6 separate regions of the Homo sapiens genome follow, and all the other regions are linked to region 1. Evidence: fine-mapped expression QTL. A gene starts in region 1. Each other region holds a variant in brackets. All regions are shown on one strand. Distances are from middle to middle.

Region 1 (4,001 bases):
GCCTCCTGGCCATGATCACACAGCTGGAAACTGGTGGCATCTGAGTTCACACCCAAGATCCTGGCTGAGTTTGCGCCCTTCCTCCCTGCCCCTCAGGAACCAAGGCTGGCCATCTCGTCTCTCTGGGCCCCTGGACTTCCCGTCTGTGGGCCTGCTTGTGTGCGTGCATCCCTGGGGGGTGGGGAGCTCCAGCTGACTCAGCACCCTGCTTCCTCTGTCCATGTGGGCAGAAAGGGCCAAGGCAGGCCCAGAGCCTGTCCTCCCTCTGTCTGCCTCTTCAGGCCAGCCTCCTTGGTGGGCTCCCCCATGATCCTGGAGGCCTGGGGACTCCCTGAAAGGCCAGGTCCCCTGTCAGCACCCCTCTCACCAGATGGCCCTGGCTGGCAGTTCCTAGACACGGCTGCCTATCTGTCTTCCTTCTGCCTGCCCCCTCCAGGGTGTGCCTAACGCAGGGCACAGAGCCAGGCAAAGGGAGCCTGGCGGGTGGCAGGGAGAGGGGATAGACAGAATCCTCACTCCCTTGCAGCCCTCGTCCCAGGCCTCCTGTCCTGCCAGGAGTGGAGTGCCTGGAGTGGGGCCCTGAGGTTGGGCTCCAAGAGGGCCCTTCGACGGTGTCTACGTAGAGGAGACAGTGGACAGAGTGGGAAGAACCAGGAGGGGGTGGAGCCCAGCCCCTCCTCTGGTCCCACAGGGCCTGAGCCAGTGAGGGCAGGAGCTTGTCCAGGCTCATGGAGTTGGTGCAGGGCTGACCTGAACCCAGAGGCTTGCTTCGGCAAGGAGGAGGCTGTGGGCCCTGCCTTCAGGCGGTTGTGGAAACAATTCTACACATTGCATCACCGGCCCATGTCACCTGCAAGGCCACACACATGTCATCCAGGCAGGCTGTCCACCCCAGCAGCCCACACGGAGTACCCGCCCCTGGCCACAGCCAATTCGAAGGACTTAAGTGTGGCCACTAGACCAGGAGGCACAGCTGTCCCCAGTGTCAACAGATGAGCAAACTGAGGCACAGAGAGGGGATAGGAGGTGCTCACGGAAAGGAGCACCAGCAGAAGGCTCCCCACAGCAGGGCTCAGGCCCTCAATACCCCCAGGGAGCCGAGGCCCAGAGCAGCGGGAAAGTGCTGGGCTGCAGGGAGGCCAGCGTACAGGTGGAAGGGGCTGTCCCCGCCCCCTAACTCCTCCAGTCCCTCTGCCACCCCTGAGATTCCCTGTTGCCCATGAGAGTCTCAGACGCCCGGCTATCAGTCACTCACACTTCAGTGTGAATCAGCGCCAGTGGGCGGCTTTTCTTGCCCTCCGTGAAGCGCGGCCGCTGCAGAGGGAAGTTTGGATTCCGGGAAGGGCGGAGAGCGAGTGCCCGCCGCAGCCTTTGAGTCTTGTGGGGAGGGTCGCGTAAAGGGGCCCCGCCGCGGGGCCAGAGGGGCGCGAGGGGTGCGAAACAGACGCGTCGCACCGCCTCCCACCCCTGAGCCCCCGGCAAGGGACACCCGGCCCCCGCCCCGAAGCCGCGCTCCCTCGGGCACTGCCCGCCGTGCCCAGGCCCCGTGCGTCCTTTGGCAAGGACACGGAGGCCCCGGGGCCCGGGGGAGGCTGCTGCGCACCCGAGACCCCCGACACCCGCCCATACCTGCCGGGACCCTGAGACTCCCCCGAGACCTGCCAAGACCTGCCGGGACCCCTGAGACTCCCCGGAGACTCCCCCGAGACCCCCGAGACCCGCCGAGACCTGTCGGGACCCCGAGACTCCCCCGAGACCCCCGAGACCCGCCGAGAGCCCCCAGACCGCCAAGGCCCGCCGAGCCCCTTCCAGACGCGGAGACCGCCCCCCCGCGAGACCCCCGAGACCCGCCGAGACCCGCCGCCGAGGCTTACCCGCCGAGCGCTCTCCTGGCCCGCGGGCCCTGGGTCGAGGCGGCGGCTTGACTCGGCCGCCAGGCGCTCCCGCCCGCGGGACCCGCCGCCGCCGCAGCTCCGTCCCGCCCGCGCCCGCCCAGTCCGCCCTCCTCCTGGCCCCGCCCCGGCCCCGCCCCTCCCCGGCGGGTCCCGCAATCCTGGAGGTCCGAGCTGGGCGTGGGGCGGGGCCGGTACCTCAGGGTGGGCGGGGAACTGCACGTGGCCTCCGCGGCCCCGGGACGAGGCCCCTGGGGGGCGAAGACTGGCGTTGTCGCGGGCCTAGACGCCGGGTCCACAGTAGGTGCTTAGTTCTCGCCCGTGAGTGAGGTAGCGTGTCTGTCCCTCCTGCGTGTCCCTCCCAGTGACACCCCAGTGCCCAGCGACCCAGGTGGAAAGGGCGCTGTCCACCCCCCCAGCCCCGTGGTCCTGATCCTGGGCGGCCCCACCCCTGCCCCGTGAGTGCGACTTAGGCCCTGGCCAAGACAGGAGCAGGGGAGGTGGGGGAGGGCTTGCTGGGCACCAGGAAACCTTGTCTTTGTTTCCAAATGTCCTCCAGGGTACTTTTCAGGCACTTCCCAGGGGGACCTCGCCTCTTGGACCAGGTCTGGACTCCGGTGGCCCAGAGGTCGTCTTGGGGCTGGGAGGCACAGGAGACCGGGTGCTTTACACTTGGCCTCCTCTGAGGCTCCCTTTCCTCCACCATCACCCTCTCCCTAAGAGTAGGCCCAGATGCCTTGGTGTAAGGGCAGGGGCGAGAAGAGGAGGGGCTTCCTGGGAGGAAATGGCTTCCCTGGGGAGCTCTCAGGGCCAGGTAGGTGGAGGGAGCCGTGGAGAAAGTGAAGAGGCTGGGGAGACCAAGCTGGGCCTGCAGAGCTTGAGGGCGAGCGGACCCCCCACCAGTGCGGGAGTCAACTGCTTGGGGCGTGGGGGGACTCCTCCCCATGAGGAGTGGGGACTGGACCCCAGGTCCCAGAGCCCAGGAAGCTGTGAGTAGAGGAAGGACAGGATCTTGCTGGGAACCCAAGGGAGCTGGGGGTGGGTGGTGGTGACCTGGCCCTGTCCAGGCAGGCGGCCAAGGTCTGACCCTCTGTACTGAGCACAAGAGGCCAGAGTCCAATGACAGGGGCTGAATTGGCTGCTCCAAATCAGGCAGGGGCAGGGGTGTCCAGGGCTGGCCCTGCAGCAGGTGAAGGACTGGGTTTGGGTCCTACAGGTTGAAATACCTGAGGGCCTCCAGGAGACACAGCCAAACCAAGCGGGTTCTCAGGGTTGCAGCTGGACCGAGTGTGGGCCAAGTCACCGTCCACCTGTCCCAGAGCTGCCCAATAATGGGTCCCAAGCCTCAGAAAGGGGATCCCTGGCTGCAATAGCCCTCCTCCCTGCTGGAGAGACACACTTGGGATCAGAGAGGTTAACTGGGGAGGGGAGTAAGTGGGAGGAGTCAGAAAACTAGGTGGCCAGGCCCTGAGCCCAGGCATAGAGGAAGAGCCAGTGCCTACCAGGAAGTGACCAGGACCAAGGCAGGGCCTCTGGAAGGGAAGGGACAAAGCAGGGGATGGCAGAGGCAGGGGAGGATATGGGAGAGTCTTCAGACAACAGGGCCCCTTTTCCCCATCTGTGAAATGGAGGGGGTCCTCTACTGGGGAGGCGGCAGAAGTGGATGGGGCATGACAGCAGGCAGATACTCACTCTACCTGGCCCAGGGCCACCCCTCACACCGGCGCTGGGGCTGTGACTCTACCCACCTACAGCCTAGCTCTCGGGGCTGAACTTAGACCCCAGTGAGGGAGTAGATGGGTGCTGGCTGGCTGGGGTGCTCACTCTCTGGGGTGCCTGCTCACATCCCCACCTGTAAGTGTCCTGGGCCTGGCTCCCCAGGTCTCAACTCTGCTCATCCCAGCATTGGGTAGCCTGCAACTCTTCTGCCCACCCCCCACTCTGGGCTATTTCACATTTTCCTAGCAGGGAGGAAGAGATAGGAACTACAGCCATTGTGGAAGTGGCTGGGCTCAGCCCCATCCGACGTTCAGTGCTGCCACTGTTAGCACCGCATGGGGCTGCGTCACTCCTGTAAGAGGCCACATGCGGAGGGAGCTCCAGGCTGGG
Region 2 (4,001 bases), 93 kb after region 1:
TGCTACAACTAGTCGGTGAATGTTCAATAAAAACAGGATACTCATTTCCCCATAAGACACTTACTAATTAGCAAAGGAGAAATATTAACTTGACCGTAGTGAAAATGGGCAGACCAGCTCAACCCAGGATCAGAGTTCCCATCCCCAGTGATGGGACAGACACCGTCACCCACTTCCTGGTGGGATATACCAACAGGGACTGGCCACATCAGTGGTGTTGCCGCCAAAACATGGTATCTGAACCTGACTGGGAAGACATGGGGCATGCACCCTGACCAAGGGATCCTCTAAAAAATAAATGCGCTGCACTCTTCAAAAAAGTAAAGGTCATGAAAAACAGAGAAACCGATCCAAAGGAAAGGAAATTAAAGAGATACGACATGGGATCCTGGATTGGATCCCATGTCAGGAGAAACAACAAGAGCTTTTTTTTTTTTTTTTTGCTATAAAGGATGTTAAAAGGACAATTGGAGAAACATGAGTAAGGTCTACAATTAGAGAATAGCATTGGATCAGTGTCAACTTCTTCATTTTGATCACTGTACTGTGGTTTTATAAGTGTCTTTATCTTGAGGAAATATACATGGAAGTATTTTAGGTTAAAGGGGTATCATGTATGAAGTGACTCTCCTTCTGTCCAGAAAAATAAGAGAGAGAGGGAGAGAGAGAATAACGAAGCAAACATGGGAAATACTGATGTTGGGGAACTAAAGTTGGGGAACTGGAGGGGGTAGAAATCCTCTCTCTCTCTATATGTATTTTTTGAGATGGAGTCTCTCTGTCACCCACGCTGGAGTGCAACGGCATGATCTTGGCTCACTGCAATCTCTGCCTCCTGGGTTCAAGCGATTCTCCTGCCTCAGCCTCCCCGAGTAGCTAGGATTACAGGTGCACCACCAAGCCCAGCTAATTTTTTTTTGTTATTTTTAGTAGAGACAGGGTTTCAGCATGTTGGCCAAGCTGGTCTCGAACTCTTAACCTCTGGTGATCTGCCCACCCTGGCCTCACAAAGTGCTGGGATTACAGGTGTGAGCCACCATGCCTGGCCCCTCTACGCTCTTTTCTACAGGAGGGAGGCCACATGGCGAGAGCATGCCAAACCCAGTGTTTTCCTATACTAGCACATCACACATGGAAAACCAGGCATCGCTCAGAAATACCTTCCCGCTATTCTGTATTTACCAATTGAATTGTTGACTCTGTCTCCTTTCTTCTTCTTATTTTTCTTGTTCTTGCCCTTTGGCTGAGGGGACTCTGCCAGCACCAGCTTGCTGTTCTGCTGATGCTCACCGGGAGAGGTGGGCTCCATAGGGGTTGGGTTTGACTTTTCGTCCTTGATGTGGTTCAGCTGCTTTTTGTTATTGTTATTACTGTTGACTTTTCTCTCCTCTCTTTTCTGCTCTGTGATGGACATGAGGTCGACCACCTTAGCCTTTGACTCAGTCTGGGCCCGGGGCTTGGACTGCCCCTCTGTGGCCTTGGGGGGCTCTGTGGGCCTCCTCGCTGGCTCGCTGCTGGCCTTGCTGGTCTGCCTCAGCTTCTGCTTGCCATTTCCTTCTTTATGGTGCTGCATGATGTCGAAGAAAAAAGAGAGTGGCTCATGCTGCTTCCCATTCACCTCCTTGGGGAGGAGAAATTTGGAGTCTCTGGTGTCGACGGGGTCTGCAGCATCCCCATCAGCCCCTAGCCCTGGCCTGGGCTCTGAGTGGTTCATATGCCTGGATGGGGAGTGAGAAGAGGTTTCTGGTTCTTCAGTTTGCTCTAGTGAGCCATTGTGGATGTTTCCAGAGTTAGGAACAGACTCTGTTGCTGCCTGGAAATTTCTAGTGAGCATGTCCAACTTGGGGCAGTCTTTACTTGGCCTCTCCTTCTTCTTCTTTTTTACAGCTCTTAGCTTCTGAAGCTCCTGAAGCCGCTGAAATTCCTCCTTGAAACGATCCTCCTCTTCTTCCTCATCCTCCTCCTCCTCCCGCCGCCTCTGCTCCTCCTGGAGGTGCAGGTGCTCCCGGGCCCTGGCCTCTGCTTCTAGGCGAGCTTTCTCCTCCAGCTGCCAATGCAAAAAGAAGGCAATTTAAGACTACAGTGAGTGCTAAAAATTAAGTCATACAGAAAAACTAAGATAATTTCAAAAACGAATCACATATGGAACATAAACTCTGAAGAGGCTGTAATAAATCAAAACTTAACACACACCCACCTCCAATTCTCTTACTCTGCAGGATTGTTAAACTTCATCTATTTACTAAAGTATATGCTTACTTATTTGTGTGTGTGTGTGTGGGGGGGGGGGTGGTAGTTAACAAAAAATTCCCGATAGCCTTTGACCTGGTACTAAACACAGTAACCAAGGACAA[A/C]GCAGCTGCAAAGCACACATCCAGGGAGTCAGCTACCCCCTCACAGGTGCGGCAGGGCATCATGCCGCCTGGCCGAGTGGATGATGTAACCAATACCACAGACTGCCCGGGCAGTACTGAGGCTGTACACGTGCCGCCAGAACTCTGAGCAAACCCACCTTTCCAGGCGAAGGCTAATGCATTCACTTGAACAGGGAATGTAAGAAATGTGTACCAGGCTGGTGCAGTGGCTCACACCTGTGATCCTAGGAGTTCAAGAGCAGCCTGGGCAACATGGCAAAACCCCGTCTCTACAAAAAGTATCAAAATTAGCTGGATGTGAGGGCGCACGACTGTGGTCCCAGCTATTTGGGAAGCTGAGGTTTGAGAATCGCTTGAAGCCAGGAGGTTGAGGCTGCAATGAGCTGTGATGGCACCACAAAAAGCAATGTGTAGTAAAGAACTAGAAATTCCTTCTTCCCACCCTAGCAGATAAACAGAAGTGCCATATATTTTCACTAGTGTGACAGATGTGACAGAGCAAATGACTCACTGTCCAACTTGATGGAAAATTAATTTTCATCCCAAGTAAAGACAGCATTTGAGTAGTGATGCACACAAACTCCAGGGGCACAAATGGAAACTGTTCTTTGTGTTCAGAAAGCAGATGAGAGTCATCAGTGTTAGGAGCACGGCTCCACCCACCACCAACCTTTAGAAATGCTGGGGCTTATGAGAAACTCTGCCAAAAGCATTTCTCCTAGAGAAATAGAAAAGTACTCCCCAAGTGTAAATTATTTTTCACAATATTTTAAACAGGCAAATTGACTTGTCTTTTGAAAAACTTAAAAATTATGATAAAAATTTAACAATGGTATGTTATTAAAAATTTCATTTGACAATTCAAGTAAAAATTATTTAACATCCTTCTCCATGTGTATGTCAGGAGCAGCACCCAGCAGCCACCTCGTGGATGGGTCCTGCAGTCCAGTGTCTAGAGTGAGCTGTGGGCCTGCACGGGAGCAGAGGAGAGACCAACTCCATCAGGACACTCGCTGGCACACACTGGCCAGTTGGCATCCTCTCAGAGCTGATCTAAATCCAGCACACGTGCCTTGTCAATATATGGACAAATAACAAGCATGTAAAGGCAGGTGCCCTGGTCTCCAGCAGAACGGCTGCCCCAGCACAGGCCCCCGGTTTGGACCTGCTACGGGACAGAGTCCATAGGTCAACTATTGCTGTCCCTTCAACAACCAGCCAGCCAGTGAGCCTCAACACACATCTGTGAGCTGCTCTGTAAAATGGGTGCAGCGTAGAAAGCACCAGGAGGTGGTCCCTCGAGGTGGGACTGGGTGCTGGGCAGGGCCTATGACATCAGCCTCTAAGGTTCAGCTGGGCCTCAAGTCTGGATTCAGACCACCTGCAAGGTCAGAGGGCAAGAGCCTGGGGTGGAGAGTACCCTGAAAACTCAGGAAGGCGTCCCAGAGGCCTCCAGTGAATCCCAATGGGACGTCTCAGGGCCTTGGACCATCGTGGGTACCCCGATGCTGGACGCTCCTGAATGGAGGACACACTGTGTTCTCTGCACTCCAGCAGTCTCTAGTCTTCTGGGGCACGGGACAAGGCTTCTCCCCCAAAGCCTCCCAATCAGGCCCAATAGTCAGT
Region 3 (4,001 bases), 32 kb before region 1:
CAGGCACACGCGGATACATGGACAGATACACAGATGCACACACGGATACACTGACAAACACATGCACACATGGTTAAGCTGACAGACACACACATGCACACACGGATACGCTGACAGACACACACATGCACACATGGATACGCTGACAGACACACACATGCACACATACTCTGACAAACACACAAATGCACACGTGCACACACAAGCACACGCAGGAACACAGGCACACAGGCATGGATATATATACACAAAGACACAGGGACACGCGCAGACATGTAGACACACAGACACAAGGACTCTGTCACACAGACATGGAAGTATACAGATAAACACAGATACAGGACAAGCACACATGTTCACACACAGACGAGCGACACACGGACACGCACACACAAACACAAGCAACACGCGGACATGCACACACACAGAGCAACATGCGGACATGCACACACACACAGAGCAACATGAGGACATGCACACACACAGAGCAACACGTGGACATGCACACACACACAGAGCAACACGCAGACATGCACACACAAACACAGAGCAACACACAGACATGCACACACACACAGAGCAACATGCAGACATGCACACACACACACACAGAGCAACACGCGGACATGCACACACACACAGAGCAACACGCAGACATGCACACACAAACAGCAACACGCGGACATGCACACACACAGAGCAACACGCGGACATGCACACACAAACACAGAGCAACACGTGGACATGCACACACACAGAGCAACACGCGGACATGCACACACAAACACAGAGCAACACGCAGACATGCACACACAAACACAGAGCAACACGTGGACATTGCACACACACACACAGAGCAACACGCGGACATGCACACACACAGAGCAACACGCGGACATGCACACACACGGAGCAACACGCGGACATGCACACACAGTTACAAGGACAGACAGAAGAACTGGAGGCTGTGGTGCCTCCACTAGGTGCCCCTTCTGGCCCACAAGGATGGCCGCCCTGACTGTGCCCACGTCTCCACCTGCTCCTGCCTCAAGAGGGCTTGGGCGACTCTGGGCTGGGCCCGAGGCTGAACAGCTTGGACCAGGGGACGGGAGCCCGGAGTCAGGCAGGGACCTGCAGGGCAGCCTTGGCTGTGCCCAGCCCTCCCTGGGCCTCCTGTCCCCACCTGTGAAAGGACAGGAAGGTTTGTTCCCTCCACATCGTCTCGGGCCAGGAAGTCCCAATCCAGAGAGTATCTGCTGCACGTCGGGCCAGCTCACGGGGGAGGCTGCCAAGGCTCAGACTGCCCAGTGGCGCCCCGCCAGGAGAATCATTCTGGTCTCACTCTGAGTGAGCCAGGGTGGGCGTAGGGGGCTGGGAACCCAAAGTGCCCAGCTGCTGCCATGCCAGGCCTCCCTGGTGGCAGGCGTATAAACACACATGATCCCCTAACAGGAACTACCCATGGCGGCAACACAGAAACAGATGTGACAGATGGGGCTGGAGGTAGACAGGAGCAGAGAGATGCATGCACACCTGTGCATGCTCTGTGTGTGTGTGCATGTCTGTGTGTTGCTCTGTGTTTGTGTGTGCATGTCTGCGTGTTGCTGTGTGTGTGTGCATGTCCACGTGTTGCTGTGTGTGTGTGCATGTCCACGTGTTGCTCTGTGTGTGTGCGCATGTCCACGTGTTGCTCTGTGTGTGTGCATGTCCGCGTGTTGCTTGTGTTTGTGTGTGCGTGTCCGCGTGTCGCTCGTCTGTGTGTGAACATCTGTGCTTGTCCTGTATCTGTGTTTATCTGTAGACAGGAGCAGAGAGACGCAGCCCAGCTGGCACCTCCAGGAAACCTTTAAGGACGGAATTCTATGCCAAGCCCGGGGCTGGGAGGCGGACACCCGGGTCAGGCCCAGGCGCCCCAGGGACCCTCACTGCCCGGTATGCCCTGGGCCCGGGCTCACCTGGTGTCCAAGGGCAGGTCTTTCTTTTCGTGGAAGTGGCCAATCTCCCTGCGCAGCAAGGCCATCCAGCTCTGCAGGTCAGCGGGGCTGTGGTGGGCACGGTGCCAC[C/A]AGGGTGGGCCCCACCGCACCCCTCCACCTTCACTGCCCTGCCTGCTCTGCTGTGACTCCCAAGGTCAGAGGAGGCGACCCGGCTGGATACAACATGGCTGTGTGGCTCCCCTCAGCCCACAGGGGCACCTCCCAGGACAGCATGTTCCTTGTGTGGGCGCTGGCACCAGGCTCTGGGCATGGGGATGGAGCTGGGGCAGCACCCACCCAGCTGCCTGTGTCCCAGCCACACCTTCTCTTTGCCCGGGGCTGAGAGGCCAGCGCCCCAGGACCAGCGAGCCCCCAAGGCAGGTCCAGCCTGGTGCCTGCAGGCCCACACCCCCAGTCACCTTGCACTCGTCCTCGGACCCCCAGTCACCTTGCGCTCCTCCTCGGAGGAGGCCGAGAAGAACCACGTGCGGTGCTTCTTGCTGATATGGATGATCTTGAAGGGGAAAACGTTGTTGGACGTGGTCTCCTCAGCCGCCCGCATCACCCTGGGGGCACAGCGCCAGGGGTCACGGCCTGGTTCACAGCTATAGGGATGGCCTTCCCACAGCACCCCCCTGTGAACACGTCTCGGCACCAGCACCACGCCCCAACGGAAGAGGGCAGATCGGGTGGGCCCTGGCTGCTGATGCTCCCAGTAGTGAGCTTCATGCCCAGGCAGGCGTAAGGGGGCATGGAGGGGCATGGAAGAGGGGTGCTGGGTGGGCTTCGTGGGAGCAGCAGTGCACAGGAGACAAGGACAAACCTGCCTCGATGCCCGCCAATGCCACTTTACATGGACGCCACCCTCCCACCTCTGGCCCCATTTGCCCAGGCCTGCTTGGCCTCCCTGGGGTACCCCACAGGGCTCCGTGCCCCTGAGGCCCAGCAGCAGCCCTGAGTGCATTTCAGGGAATGACTCGTGCCTGCTCTGCGGCCCACTCACACAGCCAGGATGTGGGGTTTGCGCTGAGTTTATCACGTGGGGAGCCCTGCCAGCCAGGCACCGGGGCAGGTGCACTTATACGGCCCATAAGAGCCTGGCCAAAACTCCTCAGGCCCAGCATTCCCTGATGGGCTAGACAATTCCCTGGGGCATGATTGCATCTGCCACTGGGCCCAGGGTTCATGGCATGGCTGGCACATGCTGGAGGCCGGAAGGCGCTGTGTCTGTCTGCAGAAAGGGAACGACCTTCCCCAGGGGACCCCGGAGCTCTGTGCCAGCATGGGGGCCTGGCACCAGGCTGGGTGCTCTGGCAAGGCTGCCCTACCAGGCCTGTGGCCAGGGTGCAGGCCGGGGCCTAGAGTCACTCCAAAGGTCCCAGTTCCACTACTGATACCATGTGACCCTTGGTTCCTCATAGGCAGGAGGGGCTGGGCCCTTAAGGGGTGGTAAGAGGCATAGATAAATGCTGTGGGGTGCAGGGCTCCGATGGGATAGCAACCAGAACCAGAGCTGGGTGCCAGCATTAACCCTTTGTGTGGGCCCCAGGCCATGGGCTGTGCCAGTGCACTCCCCCACCCACATGCCACCTGGCCACCGCCCACCTGCCTGTTAGTGCAGAAGGCCCTCCAGGGCAGCTCATGGCCCATCACTGGATAGAGCCCAGCCCAGGACATGCGTGAAGCTGGAAACTGATCCCGGCCTGGGAGGACCCTGGAGCAGGGAATCCTAGGGCCCAGCCTCTGTTTGGGACAGGGCCTGGGCTGGCTGGGGTCTGGGCTGCCTGGAAAGAGGTCATGGTGGGTGAAGGGGCAAGGTGGGGAGGGAGGAGAGATGCAGAAGTCACTGGGTGGTGGCCGAGTGGAGACTCTGGAGAGCAGGCTGTCCAGGCCTCTGGGACTTGTGCACAAAGCCACAGGAAGACCCTGGCACCCCCAAGGTCCTGCGCCTGAGGGCAGGACACGCGGAGAGGGCGAGGCACTGTGGAGGCTGGGCGGGGAGGACAGGGGATGGGCACGAAGGCTGCT
Region 4 (4,001 bases), 24 kb after region 1:
GAGTTTCACTTTTGTCTCCCAGGCTGGAGTACAACGGGGCGATCTCAGCTCACCGCAACCTCCACCTCCCAGGTTCAAGCGATTCTCCTGCCTCAGCGTCCCAGGTAGCTGGGATTATAGGCGCCCACCACCATGCCTGGCTAATTTTTTGTATTTTTAGTAGAGACAGAGTTTCGCCATGTTAGCCAGGCTGGTCTCGAACTCCTGGCCTCAAGTGATCTGCCCGCCTAGGCCTCCCAAAGTTCTGGGATTACAAGCGTGAGCCACCACTGCTGGCCAGGACCTGTTGTTTCTCTCTGGATATTTACAGGATCTTCTCTTTGTCTCCCATGTTCTGAAACTCCCTTTGATGTGCCTTAAGTACACATCTGCTTTCATTCTTGGTTCTAAGCACTCAACAGGTCCTTTCAATCCAGAAACTTGAGTTTAATTTCTTTTTTTTTTTTCTTTTTTCTGAGATAGAGTCTCCCTCTGTTGCCCAGGCTGAAGTGCACTGAGATGATCTCGGCTCACTGCAACCTCTGCCTCCCAGGTTCAAGCAATTCTCCCACCTCGACCTCCTGAGTAGCTGGGATTACCACCATGTCTGGCTAATTTTTGTATTTTTAGTAGAGACGGGGTTTCACCACGTTGGCCAGGCTGGTCTCAAACTCCTGACCTCAGGTGATCCGCCCGCCTCGGCCTCCCAAAGTACTGGGATTACAGGCGTGAGCCACTGTGCCTGGCTGAGTTTAATTTCTGTGAAATGTTTTTGGATTGTTTCTTTGATGATTTTCTCCCCTCCTTGTTCTCCCTATCTAGACATATTATGTAGATGTTAAGTGTCCCAGACTGGTCCTTCAATTCCTTTTTTTCTCTCATTTTCAACTTTTTTCTTTTTCAACTTTTTTTTTTTTTTTTTTTTTTTTGAGACAGGATCTTGCTATGTTGCACAGGCTGGTCTCGAACTTCTGGACTCAAGTGATCCTCCCACCCTGGTCTCCTGAGTAGCTTGGACGACAGGCATGCACCACTGCAAGGGCTTTATTTTCAACTTTTTGCTCTAATTTCTATAAAATTTCCTCAATCTTATCTTCCAACTCTTCTACTGAGTTTTCAATTTCCATGATCCTATTTTTAATTTCCAAGTGCTCTTTATATTCTCCAAATGTTCTTTCTTTATGGCACCTAGTTCTTTTTTCATAAATACAAAATTTTATCTTTCCTTCTTGAATATATTAATGACAGTTTTTTCCAAGCTGTCTTCTCGCAGAACAGTCTCTGTTTCCTTCCAGTTGTCCTTTTTCTGTTTGTTTTGTCTCTCTCTTCCACATCAGAGGAATCTCTCAGATGTCTGGTCATCCCGGCTGGCTTCTCAGGCTGGAGAGTAGGGACTGGTAAGCAGTGACCTGGCAGGAAACCGCCCGTGTGATCTGCCGATCAGGTTCCCTGGACACCCTGTGACACCCTGCATAGAGGGGAGAGGTCTGGCTGCCGGCGTTCTGAGCACTGCGGGTGGGTGGATGGGACGGCGCTGGGGTCTTGGCATCATGTAAATGTGCATCACATCCTCCCACCTTCAGCATGAAACCTCAGCCCCGCTGAGCCTGATATTCCCCCGCATCCAGAGACCCTCCGTCTGCTCCACGCCAGGGAAGAAGCCACTGGTGTCTGGCCTGGCGGGGGAAGCCCAGAAGCCCAGCTGTGGGTGGAGGCTGTGGGGGGAGGGGATCTGGTTCCCTGCCCGTTTCTAGCCATCCTGCTTATGTTCAGCTCCCCTTCACCCACACTCCTACATGGAGCCACACATTCCTGAGCCTTTGGTGGGGAATATGAGGGCCTGGGTCTGGGGGCATGGGGAGCCCTGCCCTCTATCCTGGGGACCACCAAGGCTGCAGTTGGTCCTTCCTTCTGAGCCCCAGTTTCTCAGCTGTTCAGTGAGGACTACATTTTTCCCTGGGCTCTTCCCACCTGAAGGGACTTTTCAACTTGGGGAGGAGCCTGCCGGGAGCTGCCAGGTATGTAACTCGCCCCCAAGAGCATCTCTCCTGGGGTTCGTCTTCCTCGGCAGTTTCTGTCTTCAAAAACCTCTTTGTTATAAGTAACTCTTTACCATCAAACATCTTAATTTGCAGACTGCGCTGTAGCCATCACCCAACACCGGAGTTGAGTGGTAACACCTTGGCTATCAGCAGA[C/T]GCCTCAGATGGCACCTGAACCCTCACTGGCAGCTGAGATGAAGGCTCCGTGGGGATGAAATACAGACACCCCGCTCGGTGTGTGGAGGGGCTGGGGTTGAACAGGAAGGAGGCCAGAAGACGGCTTCTGGGAGGAGGAAAATGGCTCTGACAAGGAATGGGAGCCACCAAAGACCCAAGAGCCACCCTCACCTCCTAGCCCAGGGGCTGTGCAGCTCAGGGCTCTACTGGGCATCACCCTCATAGGTGGCATCACCTCTACCGTACGGGCACATCACCCTCATCCAGATGAGGTGGCCTGGGAGCAGCAGAGAGCATGGCACACGCCAGCTATCATGGGTGTTTGCTACAAATGTCTTTAATACACGACAAAAGTAAGCTGTGGCTAATTTTCATTGAACAGACGCAAACATCAAGGCTACAGAGAGGAAAGATCTGTGAAGGCCACCAGAGCCTGCAGGCCACACGCCAGGCCCTCCCACTCCGGGGCTGTGCAGGCTTCTTGCTGTGCTCGTCTGTCCTCAGCTGCCGTGTGCCACACCCACCCATCACTGGAGTTTGTCAGAGACGCCAGGCCGACAAGTGCCCCTGGGTTGTCACTCCTCCCACGTCCTTGGGATGCTGGCTGGGACAGCCCTGCTCTGCTGACCCCTCACTCCTAAGGGGCTCGCGGAAGAGGCCGAGGGTCTGAGAGCTGGCTCCTTGGCCCAAGGCAGGGCTGTCCAAATCCTAAGGTCCCTCTGCTCCCATAGGAAGGCTTCCAGAAGCCTCTCTCTGGGGCCAGGGCATCTGGGAAGATGTCCCGGCCCTAACTATGATTGGGAAATGGGGCAAGATGGAGAAAAATGGCGTTTGTGAAAGGGCTCCCGGGGATATAGTCTGTATCACAGGCAGACAGGGGCCTGCAGGACTGGGCTAGGGGGCTGGCTGGGGGAAGGCAGCAGGTGGGGCAGCCACACCTCCACTGGGCTGCTCCCCCAGAGCTGGTCTGAAGACAGGCAAGGGGTATGGCTGTGACCAACCCTCTCCTGGCACCCCACCCCCAGCAACCCCTGATATTGGGGTCACAGCTCAGCCTCTTCCACTTACTCACGCATGCATACCACATATATTTACTGAGCAGCTAAACATTCATTCATGCATGCATCATACATTCATTCATTTATTCCACAGTCACCTGAGGGCCCTCCCCTGTGCAGCACTGTGCCAGACCCTGGGGGTGCTGAAACCAATCAGGTCACTGCTTACGATGTCCCAAGCTCTCTCAAATGCCCCATCCCCAGCCTCAGCCTTCCTGCCCCAGATGAGGGCAGATCCATCCTCCCCACTGCTCAGGCCAAGGTCTTCAGGTCCTCTTTGATTTTCCCTAACCCTACCTCACCCCAGTCTGTATGAGTTTCCTGTGGTTGCAGGAAAAAATTATTTCAAACTCAGTGGCTTAAAACAACACAGAGTTATTCTCTGATACTTCCGGAGGTCAGAAGTCTGAGACAGGGGTCTCCCTGAGCTAAAGTCAAGGTGTTGGCAGGGCCACATTCTTTCTGGGGCTCTAGGGGAGAATCCATTCTTGGCTGTTTCCACCTCCTAGAGGCCACCGGCATTCCCTGGCTCGTGGCCCCTTCCTCCAGGCTCAAAGTCAGCAACACTGGGTCAAATCCTTCTCACACTGCGTTACTCTGGCCTTCTCTTCCGCCTCCCTCTTCCACGTTGAAGGACCCTGTGATGACATTGGGATCACCTGCTGACCCAGGGAAAGCTCCCTATTTTAAGGGTAACTGATTAGCAACTTCAATTCATCTGCTGCCTTTATTCCCCTTGCCATGGAA
Region 5 (4,001 bases), 38 kb before region 1:
CCATGTGGCCTCCGCCACCCCAGAGCATGAGCCCTACCCCACCCGAGTCCTGGCCCCCACTGGGAGGTGGCCATCATGGCCCCCAATTTGCAGATGGAGATCTATTAGGGAATAGATTGGGGGGTGCTGCTGGGAAGAGAATTCAGCTGAGACACCAAGTAAGAGTCCACAAGGGGAGTGGTTTAGGAACTGTGGAGTCCTGGGCCCACCCACAGCCTGGGTGTGTGGAGAGCCAGAGGGGCCCTGGGGCATCTTCCCCTGGCGCCTACCTTCCCCGACTTGGTAGAGGAGTTCCGGATGCAGTAGAGTCCATCCTGGGGCTCTCCCCGGGGGCTTGTAGCCTTGAACAACCTAAAATAAGACAGTCATATTAGCGGGTGAGTCCTCCTCGGGCAGCTTTCACACGGACCTTCCCGCCCCGCTCCCAAGCCTGGCTTTCTGTCCTCTCGCTGTTGTAGGTCTCAGGAGCTGAGCACGTCGGGCTGCCGTGAGGCTGACAGAAGCAGCCCAGCAGAGCCCTGGCCAGCCAGGGTGCCAGCTGGGCATGGGACAGAGCAGGGAGGTCCACTCCTCTGGTTTCTGCTGCACGCAGGGCCATGAACTTGTGCCAGCAACTCCCCAACACGGAAGCTAGTGAGAGGGACACAGAAGCAGGAAGCCGGGCATGGCGGAGGACCCAGCACACACAGGGCTTTGTGCTGACCTTTCCACTTCGCAGGACTCCGTGGTGTTGACGAAGACCGAGTTGGGCAGTGGCACCTGCAAGAGGCTGACGGTGTCAGTGCCAACGTCGGAGTGATCCACCCGCACCACCACTCCCCGGACGGTGGCCACCCGGTGCCGGGATCCGGGGCTTTACATGGTGCTGTGTCCCCCTAGGCTCCCGGGTTCTCGGGGGGTCCTTGCTCAGGACGGTCTGTGAGGGGCCGCCCTGGCCTATGGCTTTCCCACCACCTGTCCACCTACTGGCCACTGGGACCCAGGCTTGCCGCTCAGCCTTGCCTTCTCATAGTCCTCGTCCGAGTCGTCCCCGCCAGTGTCAGCCTGTGAGGGTTGCCGGGGCTTTTCAAAGGAGAAGCTCCTGAAACTCTGCCCATCGGGGGGTGATCGCCTGGAGGGGCAGGGAGAGGAAGGCAGGACCATTTCACTGTCAGACACGGGGCGGCCACCCTCTGCTCCCCTCCCCACTCCACCCTCTGTGTGAGGACGGCAAGCTGCCTGCTATGGCCCCTGTGACCCTAAAAAGCTCAGGACAACAGAGATCCGGGTAGGGCTCGTGCCGACTGCCCTGGGACAGCAGGAATCGCCCGACACCGGAGTCAGGGGTCAGGGCTGCCATGGATGCTGGCAAGGGAGTCCAGGGTTCCCAAGCTCAGTGTCATCACACCGTCAACAAGTGCTCTGGATGCTCGTGGGGAGGGGAGGTCCGGTCATGGCCAAATCACAGCCCACTCAGAGCCACAGGGGAGTGGACGTGAACTGGATGAACAATGCAGTGTGACCCCAAAGGACGCCCATGGCGTCCCTGCACGCCTCCCTGTGTGGCTAGCCGGTCCTGCTCAGCAAAGCCTCAAAGGCTCTAGGGAGGATTAACGGGCCACGCCAGCATGGGAGGCCAGCCTGTGGGTGAGGCTGAGCCCTGGAACCGCTATCCCCACAGTCATGGAAAAACGTGACTTCCGAACATCTGCATCTCTGCAGCCCTTGGTGAACTAGAACCACGAGTGTGACAAGGGCTGCTCAGAGGCACTTCCACACAGGCAGCAGGCATCTCAGAGGTGTTCGCAGAGCCCTGGGAGAAGGGCACCGTGGGCAAGGGCATTCGGGGGTGCGCGTGCCGGCCAGCACACCCATGCGAAACCTGCCCCTCCAGTTCCTGGACCCTTTGCCTGCCAGGCAAGGCAGGAAGCCCACCTGGGGTCCCAGATGCCTTTGACCACAGCCATTGGCGTAACTCTGTGGGAGTGGGGGACAAACTGGTCTCCTGGCACTTCCCAGAAATAAAGCAGAAAGCATTTCAGCAGGACGCGGTGGCTCACGCCCGTAATCTCTACACTTTGAGAGGCCGAGGCAGGCGGATCACTTGAGACCAGGAGTTCAAGACCAACCTGGCCAACATAGTGAAACCCCTGTCTCTACTAAAAATACAAAAATTAGCCGGGCGTGTTGGCAGGTGCCTGTAGTCCCAGCTACTTGGGAGGCTGAGGCAGGAGAATCACCTGAACCCCGGAGGTGGAGGTTGCAGTGAGCTGAGATCGCACCACTGCACTCCAGCTTGGTTGCCAGCGTGAGACCCTGTCTCAAAAAGAAAAAAAAACAAAGCATTTCCAGCAAGCTTCAGGGCTGAGTCATGGACATGCTCCACGTTCCACCAAGGCGGACTGGAGGCAACCGGGAACCTTCCTACCCTTGCACCTGGTACCCCGTCGTGGGCTAAGAGTGCCAGGGGAGCGAGGTGGGCAGAGTGCCCGTCAGAGGCCAGGCCAGGGT[C/T]CCTGTAGCTGGAGGCAGGGCTTGCAGCCGCCACACAAACTCACTGGAGGTGCGGGAGCTGCGGCTTCTCTGGCCTGGGCAGGACTGCGGGCCGCGCCATGGCCTCAGGCACTGGCAGCTTCAGCGCAGGAGGCCGGGGAGCCACGGGGGGCACAAAGAGTCCGGGCATGGCTGCCTCCCTTGGGGGGTCCTCTTCAGCTATCTTCAGGAACTTGGGCTTGTTGGCTGGCACAGGTGGGGGCTCAGATGTGGGTGGTCCTCGGGGGGACAGGTGGAAGGACTTGAGTTTGTCACAGTTTCTGGAGGTGGCAGTGGCCATGATGGCAGCACTGGAAGTGGAGCAGGCCCCGTGGCCAGGGGTCCAGGGCTCCGGGCTGGGGCTGGCACTCTCCCGGAAGCAAGGGGGTTTCCGGAGGCCGGGTGCGGTGGGCATGGTGCTCAGAGGGGGATCGCTCATCCTTCGGGGGGTAGCAGGTACCCTGGGGCAAGGCTCAGCCCGCCTCGGGCACAGTGGGTCCCTCTTGGAGTCCTCAGCAGCCAGGCCAACATCTGGGAGGCCGTGCTTAGGGGGCGGGGGTGGCAGTAGGGGACCGGGGCCCTTGGAGGTAAAGGAGTGGGCCCGGGGCATGTCAGAGAAGGCTGGCTTCCTGGGCGTGGGCACTGGGGGTGGTGGGTAAGCCGGTGGGTGCATCAGGGCATCTGCAGAGCAAAGAGACCCGGGTTGGACCCTGACAGAGACTGGGCCAACACTATCCTCTGCTGGCAGTGGTCAGCCAGGCCAACCAGGAGTGCAACCCATGGTAGGCCCACCCCACAGCCTGCCCACCCAGCAGCCCAGCACCCAGCACTCCCATCCTGCCTTCCCCAGGGTCCCAGACCACCCACCACCCCCAGCCTTCCCCATTCATCCTCCCTATGGCAGCCTGTGGACGCTTCCTGAAGCCTAGAGGACACCTGAGGAGCCCATCAGGTTCCCAGAGGTGGAAGGAAGAGAAAGGAAGAGAAGTCAAGAAGGATCTCAGGGCTCGGCTGGAGCGAGAGGGAGGACGGAATTCCCAAGGACAGGGGAGGGGAGCAGCTGGGAGGAAGGTGAAGGCCCGTGTTTGCTCAGAACATATCCAGAAAGCTGGGAGATGCCAGGGGATGCGGGGTCAGGGAATGTGTGCAGAGTTCAAAAATCCAGGCTGGACATGACTCGGAGCGGGCAGCCTGCAGATGACCCAGGCTGTCACCCAGGGAATTCGGGAGAGGAGTGAGGTCTGAGTCCCGGGTATCCCTCATGGGGCCAGCACAGGAGCTGAGGAGAAAGAGGACCCCGGGAGCACGGGGCGCCTGGAGGACGGGCTGGCAAGGAACAGGGCAGGCGCCAGGCTGGTGTGGCTCAGGACTGAGCGCTGGAACTGGGAATGGGGAGGCCACAGGCGTCCTGGACGAGAAATGTCTCGGGGAGAGGATGAAGGGGGTACAGAGGGAGGGTGAGTGGAGCAGTAGCATGCAGGAGCACTGGTGGC
Region 6 (4,001 bases), 20 kb before region 1:
GAAAGGTCGGCTGAGGCTGAGGGTGATGATGGGCCATGGAGGCCGTGGTGACCATGCTGCTCTTGGGGAAGTTCAGCCCAGCTCACAGAATCTGGCCCCACTTGTGCTCGGGAAAACCAGGGGGCATCCCCAAGGAGCACCCACACTCCTAGCTGGCCAGGCCTCCCTGGCTGTGCTTCTCAGTGCCCAGCCCCTCTTCCAGGGACCTGATGGTTAAATTCCATTCATTCATTCCAGGGGACTCCACAGGCCTACCTGCCAGCTCTCTGGGTGCTTCAGTCCCTTCCTCTGTAGAGGCAGACACCCTGGGGGGACCTGTCACCATGCTGCTGCGGTGTCGGCTGAGTTAACATGGGCAGGAGCTGTGAGGGAGAGTGCTGAAGATCTGGGTTCACATCCTTCCTGGGGCCCCTCCTTCCCCTGAGCCCCCACCTCCTCCAGTGTAAAGTGGGTATGGAGGAGTCCACTCTCAGAGTCCCCTGACACCTCTGCAGCTGCTCTCTGGGGCAGGGCTCTGGAGACACATGGGCCAGCGTTGGGCGGCCAAAGCTGGTGGTGGCTGCTGGGCTCCATGAGCCCTTCCAGAAAGTATGTGATCTTTGCATGTGTGCACACGTGGAGATTTGCATTTGAGCCTGTACACTTGTGCGTGTGTGCGTGTGTGTGTGTGTGTGCACATGCACATTAGGGAAGACGGGGCACCTGGGATACACTCTCCAGGTCTCTGTTTCTGTGCTCATCTCCCTACCTTCTCTCAAAGTTGCAATTGGTTCAGGTGACCCCAAGGCCTGAGGCTGCTGCGGTGGGGGGCAGAGCAGTCAGGTGAAAAGTGCTCAGTCCCACAGAGACACCCCATCGGGTTCCATTTAATGCAGGCTCTGTGGCTCCCACCACCCTGGGGCCCCATGAGCCCTGTGGCGTGTGTGGTCATGGCCTGTGCAGGCCCTCATGTGCGCTGTGTCTCTGCACACCCAGTTAATGTCACAGGTGGTGCACTCACACAGGACGTGCACATGAGCTGCACAGCTCGCATGCACACAGGCGTGAGCCCCTGCATAGGAGCAGGGTGGGGGCTCTGGGAGGCTGGGCTCCTGCAGGATCATCCTGGCTGTGGTAAGGGAGCCAGCACCTCATGTGACCACAGGGTCAAGGACTTACTGTTAGTGGTGATCAGGTTGGCCCCATTTGTGGGAGCCACAGGGCAAGTTGGGGCTGGGGATCCAGCCCAAAGGGAGAAGATACCAGGTCACCCTGTGCACTTTATTCACACGCTCATATATGCGCATCCTGTCACACTCATGCATGTACAGTTAACACTCACACCATCCACACTAACACATATATACACACTCATTCTCCCGCATGCCCACTCGCTCTCATGTTCTCATACACACTCATGCACTCATGTCTACTCATACGTGCACACTCACACCCATATGTATACTGATATACACATTCATCACACTCACTCATGCATATGCAAGCACTCATTCACACACACACAGCCTCCAACGACCAACAAGACCTGTCAAGTGCGGTCTTCTGTGTCTCCGTGTCCTGAAGCCTGAGCACAGAATCATCACCACCACTCCCAGCCCTGCCAGGGCCCAGTGCCAAGCTGTACCTCACAGCTCACTAAATCGACCAGGGTCCACCTGAGCTCAATACTTTACTTCTATTTTACAGACTTGGGTATAGAGGCTGGGAGAGGATCAGGCCTTGTGCCGAGCGCACTGGGCACTCCCTGTGGGCCAAGCTCTGTGCTTCTCAGTGATCGCCCCATCATCCAACACCTTGAGCTTCAAACCAGAGTCCTCCCCAAGTCACTGACGAAGAAACTTGGCCAAAGTCACACAGCCAGTAAATGGTGGCTCACGCACCACCCCCGGCCCAGCACAGCCACGGCCCAGCTTGGCGCACAGTGGGTGGCCGGTGGTGGGCGTGGGATGTGCAGATGGGGCGGCTTCCACCTTGGAGCCCTGGCTGCCCTGCCTCCCCACAGCTGTCTGCTCTTCCTTTTCGGTTTCCCTTGTTTCCTTCCTGTTCCCAGAATCTTTCTCTGTTAACATAATCAAAACCAAAA[T/G]TCTCCCGTAAAGGCCCAGTAACCAGCTATGCCAGAGAAGCACTGCTGGCCAGGGGCAGGGTGGCCCAGCCTGGGCTCTGCGAGCACAGCCCCAGCCCGGCAGTCCCTGAGGTCCCTGCGGGTCCTCCACATTGCAGGTTTCAGAGCATGGCACTCCCCAGGTGGGCAGCAGGGACCTTGTACAGCTCTCTCCGTTACCCCCCCACAACAGAAACACACACTCACATACACAACGTGTGTACTTAGGACCCAAACACCAAGGCCACCCTGCAGGCTGTATCATGAGAAGTTCCCGGACCTGGGCCCCACCCCAGCAGGCTGGCCCCCGCCTCCCTGTCGGCCGCATGTGATGGGGGGGTGGGGGGGGTTCTAAGTATCACATTCCCTCTCTGGCCTCCCCCTGTGCCTGCCAGCTCGGGGGCCTCTCAAGGCAGACAGAGGCCACTCTCCTCAGAGCCTGTTGCCTTTTGCAGGCTCAGGGCCACCTCCTGTGGGCTCCCACGGCCAGCCCCGAGGAAGGCTGTGGCTCCCACGTGGGGCCCCCTTACTGGTTCTTCAGGTGCTAGACCAGTGCCGCCTCCCGAGCCCCAGTCCTGGGGCCGCCCCACTGACCTGATGGTGCTGACCCAACACATGGCCCTCCGTCCTCGTGACCTGCTCGGGGCCGGTGTCCTGGGGCCCAGGGAGGCCATGCGGCTCAGGGGCCACCAGCCCAGGCAGCCTACATCTCCCAGACATGTGAGGCCTGACGCGCCTGGCTGCCCCACAGCTGTGCCCACAGCTCACTCCTGCTGCTTCTGAGGCCTGTGGCCGCCGGTGCTTCCTCCCCACCCGGGACTTCCTGTTCCCTGCTCCCTGGGCAGCACCAAGTAGCCGGCACTTCCTGCCTTCTACCCTGTGAGGTCCTGAAAGCTGCCTGGGGCCCAGGGCTGCCCCTCATCCACCATCCGGGTTTTAACTCCTACCTTCCACTGCTCCTGCCCTCCCATCCTGTGGTCAGAGGCCAGGGCTCTCTGGCTCCAGCGCAAGGTCAGCTGCATCCCTGGGAGGAAGCTCCCTGCTGCCTCCCCGCAGGGCCACCTCTGAATACTCGGCTTCTCCCTAGCAAACCATGAAACAACCTGCACCCTGGGTGTCAGGCCCAGCACAGAGCAGCATTTACAACACACACAGGGATGGTGTCACCTTACCAGCATGCTCTTCCTGCCAGGGCAGCTGCTGCCACCCTGCTCTGCCATCTGAGGCCACACAGAGGGCTGTTATGTCTTGCACCCGGTTCTATGAATTTCAAGGTGGCCATCTCTGTGCCCTTTGACACCAAGGGACTGAGGGACTAGGCCTGGGCTCTGGCATTCCTCGATTCCTACTCTATCCCCAGCCTTTTCACGTCCCCGCAACCACACCAGCTCTGCTAACATCTGGTTTGCTAGAAAGTACATTATGGCTGAGTGGCAAAGCACGCTCCCGTACTCACCGGCCCCTGCCCCAAGGCCCGCTCAGAATTCGGCCCCTCCCAGGGCTGCTCTGCCCCCACCAAGCCCAGTGCCCTGCCCAGGCCCAGAGCCCGGAAGCAGGGAATGGGGATTCTAGCCACTGGCTGCTGAGCGCCCTCCCTCTCCTCCCAGAACTTGCCCAGGGAGGACAGGACCCCTGGGCAGAGGCAGCTGGAGAAAGGGGCTTTCTGGGGCCTGGGGCCACCCTCACAGCAGGATTTGAGGGTGACAGAGGCCACAGAGCACAGGCCACAAAGCTGCAGGGGTCTCATCTTGCCCGCCAGGCTTCCTAGGGCACGGCCCCCCGAAATCAGCCTCCCAACAAACCCTGGACCCCAGCCCCGTAACCGGCTGTGCAGGTCCCAAGCTGTCCCATAGCCTAGGTGTCGGGTCACTCAAAAAAGGCAGCTCCCAGGCTAAGGAGC

Which allele goes with the higher level. Positions count from the first base shown, and alleles are read on the strand shown. Sizes are in standard deviations (SD) of each study's normalised expression. Not every link is listed here.
For the expression in thyroid of the gene that starts at base 1,928 in region 1, allele C in region 4 goes with a higher level than allele T (small effect, 0.29 SD a copy in GTEx).
For the expression in fibroblasts of the gene that starts at base 1,928 in region 1, allele G in region 6 goes with a higher level than allele T (moderate effect, 0.45 SD a copy in GTEx).

What was found.
Region 2: its variant is fine-mapped to the expression of SH3BP2 in whole blood (TOPMed, PIP 0.98).
Region 3: its variant is fine-mapped to the expression of SH3BP2 in whole blood (INTERVAL, PIP 0.93).
Region 4: its variant is fine-mapped to the expression of SH3BP2 in thyroid (GTEx, PIP 0.99).
Region 5: its variant is fine-mapped to the expression of SH3BP2 in whole blood (TOPMed, PIP above 0.99).
Region 6: its variant is fine-mapped to the expression of SH3BP2 in fibroblasts (GTEx, PIP above 0.99). The same link has a PIP of 0.9 or more in whole blood.

The regions. Positions count from the first base shown.
Region 1 is chr4:2,791,012-2,795,012 of GRCh38, reverse strand. SH3BP2 (SH3 domain binding protein 2) reads right to left here and starts at 1,928. Exons shown (of 13, transcript NM_001122681.2): 1 at 1,875-1,928. RefSeq lists a silencer at 1,861-2,210.
Region 2 is chr4:2,697,726-2,701,726 of GRCh38, reverse strand. FAM193A (family with sequence similarity 193 member A) reads right to left here. Exons shown (of 21, transcript NM_001366318.2): 19 at 1,183-2,047. Among named protein-coding and RNA genes, the nearest start is that of TNIP2, 57 kb to the left of the region's middle. The variant A/C (reference allele first, on the strand shown) is at 2,355.
Region 3 is chr4:2,823,151-2,827,151 of GRCh38, reverse strand. It overlaps SH3BP2 (SH3 domain binding protein 2), which reads right to left. Exons shown (of 13, transcript NM_001122681.2): 4 at 2,422-2,539; 5 at 1,956-2,026. Among named protein-coding and RNA genes, the nearest start is that of ADD1, 19 kb to the left of the region's middle. RefSeq lists enhancers at 1-316, 317-1,203. The variant C/A (reference allele first, on the strand shown) is at 2,064.
Region 4 is chr4:2,766,650-2,770,650 of GRCh38, reverse strand. All of the region lies in intron 2 of LOC102723763 (a long non-coding RNA gene), which reads right to left. Among named protein-coding and RNA genes, the nearest start is that of TNIP2, 12 kb to the right of the region's middle. The variant C/T (reference allele first, on the strand shown) is at 2,176.
Region 5 is chr4:2,828,681-2,832,681 of GRCh38, reverse strand. It overlaps SH3BP2 (SH3 domain binding protein 2), which reads right to left. Exons shown (of 13, transcript NM_001122681.2): 8 at 2,535-3,189; 9 at 1,003-1,111; 10 at 704-759; 11 at 270-351. Among named protein-coding and RNA genes, the nearest start is that of ADD1, 13 kb to the left of the region's middle. The variant C/T (reference allele first, on the strand shown) is at 2,491.
Region 6 is chr4:2,811,172-2,815,172 of GRCh38, reverse strand. All of the region lies in intron 1 of SH3BP2 (SH3 domain binding protein 2), which reads right to left. Among named protein-coding and RNA genes, the nearest start is that of SH3BP2, 20 kb to the right of the region's middle. RefSeq lists a silencer at 979-1,028 and enhancers at 1,739-1,838, 2,789-3,028, 2,213-3,297. The variant T/G (reference allele first, on the strand shown) is at 2,084.